Linked DNA regions of Homo sapiens: region 2 is linked to region 1. Evidence: fine-mapped QTL for protein levels in blood plasma. Region 1 holds a variant in brackets. A gene starts in the other region. All regions are shown on their forward strands.

Region 1 (2,908 bases):
CTCGCTCCTGATGTGAAAACGACCCATCTGGGCTACTGTCCTCAAGGCTACATCTACACAGTGGGGACTGGCAGGCTGGTCCTGACCTCCACCACAGTAGAGATGGCTACACCCTCGCCTTACCTCAGGGAGCCTCGAGTGATACCCCTCCCCAGCCTGGAGCTCCCACCAAGCCTTCCTTCTTGCCCCTCCTCCTGGGCCCTAATCCCTGGGGTCTGCCTCCAGAGCTGACACAGGAGCTGAAGGACCACAACGCCACCAGCATCCTGCAGCAGCTGCCGCTGCTCAGTGCCATGCGGGAAAAGCCAGCCGGAGGCATCCCTGTGCTGGGCAGCCTGGTGAACACCGTCCTGAAGCACATCATCTGGTGAGTGGAGCAGGACCACACCAGGAGCTAGCCCCTTCCCACACCTTTGCCCGGGACACGCTCTGCATGCTCAGTCAACCAGTCTGCAAGCATCGACTTGTGTCAGATCACAAAGAGTGGATCAAACAAAGCCCCTCCGTCAAGAAGCTCCCAGAATAGTTAACAAGAACCATAAGACAGTGACACAGGAACCCTAATACAACAACCCCAGAGCAAGGCCAGGGACGGTGGCTCAAGCCTGTAATCCCAGCACTTTGGGAGGCCAAGGTGGGTGGATCACCTGAGGTTAGGAGTTCGAGACCAGCCTGGCCAACATGGCAAAACCCCATCTCTACTAAAAATATAAAAATTAGCCAGGCATGGTGGCAGAAGCCTGTAATCCCAGCTACTCAGGAGGCTGAGGCAGGAGAATCGCTTGAACCTGGGAAGTGGAAGTTGCAGTGAGCTGAGATGGTGCCATTGCACTCCAGCCTGGGTGACAAGAGTGAGATTCTGTCTCAAAAAAAAAAAAACAAAAAAAAAAAAACAACCCAGAGCAAGGTTGTCTGGGGTGGCACAGGGAAGGGATGAGGTGATGCTTCTCACTGGAGGTGACAGTGGAGCCGATGACTCAATGCTCACCAGGAGACAAGAAGCAAATGGCATCCAGGTAGAAGAATCAGGCTGGGCAAAGGCATGGAGAAGTGACAGTCGGTCAGAATGGCTAGAGCTCAAACCTCAAGGCAAGGAGTAAGGGATCAGCAGGGTCAGGTCACAGAGGGTCTTATGAGTCAGCTCAAGGAGCTGGGAGTCACCACCTAGAAGAGAAGGCACCATAATAGCATTGTGAGCAGGAGTGGAGGGGAGGGATGGAGGCAAGACCATCTGGAGAGGAGTCGGTGGGCAGGGCCAGGGTCCCGCTGCTGCCTAGGCACCCCAGGGAGATGGAAAAGATAGAGAGGGAGTGGATTTGGGAATAATGAGCCGGAGGCATGATTCTGATCTCTCCTAAACCCCATCCAGGCTGAAGGTCATCACAGCTAAC[A/T]TCCTCCAGCTGCAGGTGAAGCCCTCGGCCAATGACCAGGAGCTGCTAGTCAAGATCCCCCTGGACATGGTGGCTGGATTCAACACGTGAGTGACCCCTCCATCAAGTACAGTAGGCTTGACAGGCTCATCTGCTCGTTCCCCCTCCCCCGCCCCCACCATGCAGGTGTCTGGAAAAGAGAGTTCCGAGCAGAGAGAAGAGCAAGTGCAGAGGCCCTGTGGCAGCAGTGTACTTGCCTTGCTCAAAGAATGGCAAAGACAGGGGAAAGAGAGAGGGGGCATGGTAGGAGATGAGGCCAGCAGGCAGCCGAGGCCAGATCATACAAGGCCTCTTGGGAGAAGATAAGGACTTGGCTTTTGCTGAGTAGGACGGGAGCCAGGGAGGATTCTGAGCAGAGGAGGGATATGCTGTGCTTTCACATTTTTAAAGACTCCTGGCTGCTGTGGGGAAAAAAGACTTTCTGGGGGTAAGAGTGGAGACAGGAAGGCTATCCCAAAGCTACTGCAACAATTCAGGAGGAGATAATGATGGCTTAGACCAGGGTTTGGGGCAGGGAGGTGCTGAGAAGTTGATTGGATTCTGGATATGTTTTGGAGGTAGGTGGGGACACCAGGATATCCCGGGGAACTGAATATGCATGTGTATTCAGGGGGAAAGAGAGAGAAGTCAACGATGACTCCAAGAGTTCTGCCTGCACCACTGGCAGGATGGAGTGGTCAGTAACCAAGACAGGCAAGGCCATGAGAGGAGCAGGTCTGGGGAAGAGCCAGTCCAGTGTTGCATGCGCTAAACTTGAGAAGCCCGTGAGACATCGGAGTAGGGGGCTGGGGGTAAGTTTGGAAGCTGTCAGCAGACGAAAGACGTTTCAACCAAAGAGGAGTCTGAAAACTGAGCCTGGGACATGCTGGGGTGAAGTTGGGTGAAGATGAGGAGAAACCAGCAAAGGAGACTGAGGAAGGAGGTGAGGGCTGGAAGACAGAGACGGACGGCAGGGTTGCTCCAGCCCGAGCTTGCCTGGTGCTCACATGGTCAGGTGCCTCCACCCGCTAGGCCCCTGGTCAAGACCATCGTGGAGTTCCACATGACGACTGAGGCCCAAGCCACCATCCGCATGGACACCAGTGCAAGTGGCCCCACCCGCCTGGTCCTCAGTGACTGTGCCACCAGCCATGGGAGCCTGCGCATCCAACTGCTGCATAAGTGAGTGTCGCTGGCCACCAGCCGGGCTCCCATCCTGCCTGGAAGGAACGCCAGGCAGTGGACTTCCCCCATTTTACAAATGGAGAACGCTGAGGCCTAGAGAAAGAAAGGGACTTATCCCCTCCTGATTCCTGATCTGGGGCTCCTTCCAGGGAATCTGTGATGCCAAGGGAAGTTCAGGACATCAAGGTCAGAAGCAACCATGGTGGGTTTCAGGCATGACACCGGGAGGTGGGGCAAATCTTTGAAGGGGGAGGCCTAGAAACTCCTCCAAACACCAGGGCAGGTGTAGGTGGAGCCAGGGGCAAAAACATAGG
Region 2 (2,908 bases), not on the chromosome of region 1:
CATGTGCCAAAGTTCAGGGAATGGTCAGACACAGAAAAACAATGCTTGGCTAAGGAGCTGAAGTGTGTTTCAAAGAAAACAAGAAGAGCCTGATGTCTCATTCACCTCTCCTGGACAGCTGCCTTCTTCCGAGATGCCCAGCTTATTTGCCTGGATTCATCACGAGAGAAGTAGTTTTTAGATATATTCCACCATCTAGAGAAAGGAAATATCACTTTTTTGAAGGCGAACCAAGAAGTCTGTTTTGGGGTTGATAAATTTCTGACAGTTGCTCCCAGAGTATTTTCAACTCAAAGTATAATTTCATAAAGAGGCTTATTATGTTTTAAATTGTCTGTCTGTAAAATATACTTTCATGAAATTTTGTTTTCTCGGAATCTTCCTTTTTCCTTCTTGTATGAATCTAATGAACTTGAATTTCCAAAGTCATTGAGGTAGGAAAGGTATGTAACATTATGCTTGAGCTTTAGGTCAATAATTTATACGATAGTGGTGGTTTTGTTTTGTTTCGTTTTGTTGAGACAGAGTCTCGTCCTGTCACCCAGGCTGGAGTGCAATGGCATGATCTTGGCTCACTGCAACCCCTGCCTCCCAGGTTCAAGTGATTCTCCCACCTCAGCCTCCCAGGTAGCTGGGATTACAGGTATGCACCTCCATGCCTGGTTAATTTTTGTGTTTTTAGTAGAGACAGGGTTTCACCATGTTGGCTGGGCTGGTCTCCAACTCCTGACCTCAAGTGATCCACCCACCTTGGCCTCCCAGATTCTGGAGTTTTTTAAATGGGTCACCCTATAGAAGGCATGAAGTCATAGAATCATAATAATCACCAAAACCAACCATTGATTTCAATACTAGAAAATTTGAGACACCAGAAGGTGAAGTGACTTGCCTAGAGCCATACAATGGCAGAGGCAGGGACTGCAACCCACTATGAAAGCTTAGGGCTCTTCTCACCCTTTGGTGGCCAAAAGTATTTTGAAATTTTGACCAAAAAAATTAATGTTTATTGATCACTTTAAATCCAAAAGATGAATCCACTGGATTCCACAGTAAATTGGGTGGAATGTAAGGGAGGGATCAAAGGGCAGTGAATATATGAATGGGGAGGAGAACCATTTAGCTAGGTGCAAAAGTAATTGCGGTTTTTGCAATACTTTTGCACCAACCTAATAATTGTTCATAATTCTAAGAGCTATTCGGATCCCATTAGGAGCTTAAAAGGGACAAATGTGCTCAGGGCATGCAGTTTTTGCCTTCCGGAACTAGATCAGGATCATGCATTTAAGCTAGAAAATGGAAAGAGGAGTTGCTTCACCCACAGTCAGTGCTATTGCATCAACCAATCCCTGCCATTCTGCAGTTTCCTGGTGTATCTGCCCGGAGTCACACAGTCTTTCCTGCTAAGCCTCAGCGTCTCCTCCAAGCCACATCAAAATCTTTCCTTCTGGGCCTTTCCCAGAAGTGAATTCTTGCTGGAAGGTATAAAAGACCAGCTCCTCCAAGCAGAGCAACTCCCTGGCTGCCGTGAAAAGACAAGGCACTGGGCAGGTAAGACTCGTCAACTTTCATCTTTCCTGGTTTCTGCAAAGTTGATGATGAAATTTCCTAACGTCTTCTCAGAAAGCTTAACACTGGATTTAGACTTGTCTCTATCAGGCACTTTCTGGTGCCAGCTTTAGCCACCCCATGGCACACTCCTCTTGTTTGGTATAAGAGAGAATGTAATTAAGCCTCCCCCCACCACTGTGGGGGAAAAAGGCTTTTCTGTGTCTGAAAACTATGTCAGAGAATCATAAACTCTTAGGGCTGGAAGGTACCATAGACCTCTCTTATCCACCTTGTTTAGGAACTGAGACTTAAGCAATTTAATGTGTCCAGAGTCACACAGGAATTTGGGGGAAAACAGTGACAGAATGGTGCTCCCTGTGCTGTTCTTGAGACAGTGTGATGAAATCTGGCCTCTCCACTATAGTGGAGATTTTGCAGTGTTTTAAGGGGTTCCCTAAGCCGGAGCTGTCAGGTCTTCATCTCATTTCCAGCATCTCATGCCTGCCATCTGCAGCAGATCCGACCATCTAGTTTGCCCTCAATGTCTAGTCCTAGCTGTCTTAAGTGCCCTGTGGACACCTGGCTCTCAAGCAGGTGTGTGACCTGTATGCAGCGGTAGTAGGCAGGCTTCATTTTGGGGGAATGGGGTGGTTAAATTATATTTGTTTTTTATGCAATTGTGTGCCTCAAATCTTTCAGTTGAAGTAGATTATTTCCGCTCTAGAGGGCTTGATAAGAGCTATCTCTTCATTCTCATCCTGATCTTGGAGTCACTCAAAAGATCAAGAGAGTGTTCCTGCAGGTGATGGGGCAAGAATTATGGCTTTCCTATTGGCTCACTCCACCACCCTCCACAGGGCTCTTTACAATCATGGAAGAGAATCTCACTGACTTCATCCCTTCTCAGGCCTTCCCCCTATCTCCTTGGTGACTGCTCAGCGACATTGAGAACCAAAGTCTGGAAGGCCTTGGTACTCAGAGTGTGGTCTGCAGACCAGCAACATCATCATCACCTGGAGCTTACTGGAAATGCAGACTTTCAGGCCCCTTCTATGACCTTCTGAGTCAGAATCTGCATTTACCAAAATCCCTAGGTGATAGTAGGCACATTACAGTGTGAGAGGCTTGCCGAGGGACTATCTCTGCCCTCTCCCTCTGCAACCTCCAGATGCTGAATTTCTCTGCTCTAGGAGTTTTATTCATTCAGCATGCACCCAACACCTATTATGTATTGACATGCTTAGGTCCTGGGAAAACAAATAAATAAGATGGAGCCCTTGAGGAGTTCATGGTCTGATAGGGGAAACAGATGTGAAGACAGTAATATGAGATATGGATGAAATACTGTGGGAGGACAGAA

Alleles and levels. Alleles are on the strand shown, and positions count from the first base shown. The strength of an association depends on the size of the effect and on how common the allele is.
With allele A in place of T in region 1, the plasma level of the protein whose gene starts at base 1,393 in region 2 is higher (weak association).

The links. PIP is the chance, under the fine-mapping model, that this variant and not a neighbour inherited with it causes the effect. Protein levels are from antibody-based Olink assays in UK Biobank. Linkage for the fine-mapping came from a reference panel and not from the study's own genotypes, which makes the PIPs less certain.
Region 2: LPO starts here. The variant in region 1 is fine-mapped to the plasma level of the LPO protein (UK Biobank, PIP 0.98).

Annotation. Positions count from the first base shown.
Region 1 is chr20:33,288,516-33,291,423 of GRCh38, forward strand. It overlaps BPIFB1 (BPI fold containing family B member 1), which reads left to right. Exons shown (of 16, transcript NM_033197.3): 3 at 226-367; 4 at 1,370-1,477; 5 at 2,442-2,591. Among named protein-coding and RNA genes, the nearest start is that of BPIFB1, 6.8 kb to the left of the region's middle. RefSeq lists enhancers at 1,105-2,065, 2,066-2,908. The variant A/T (reference allele first, on the strand shown) is at 1,392.
Region 2 is chr17:58,237,192-58,240,099 of GRCh38, forward strand. It overlaps LPO (lactoperoxidase), which reads left to right and starts at 1,393. Exons shown (of 13, transcript NM_006151.3): 1 at 1,393-1,548.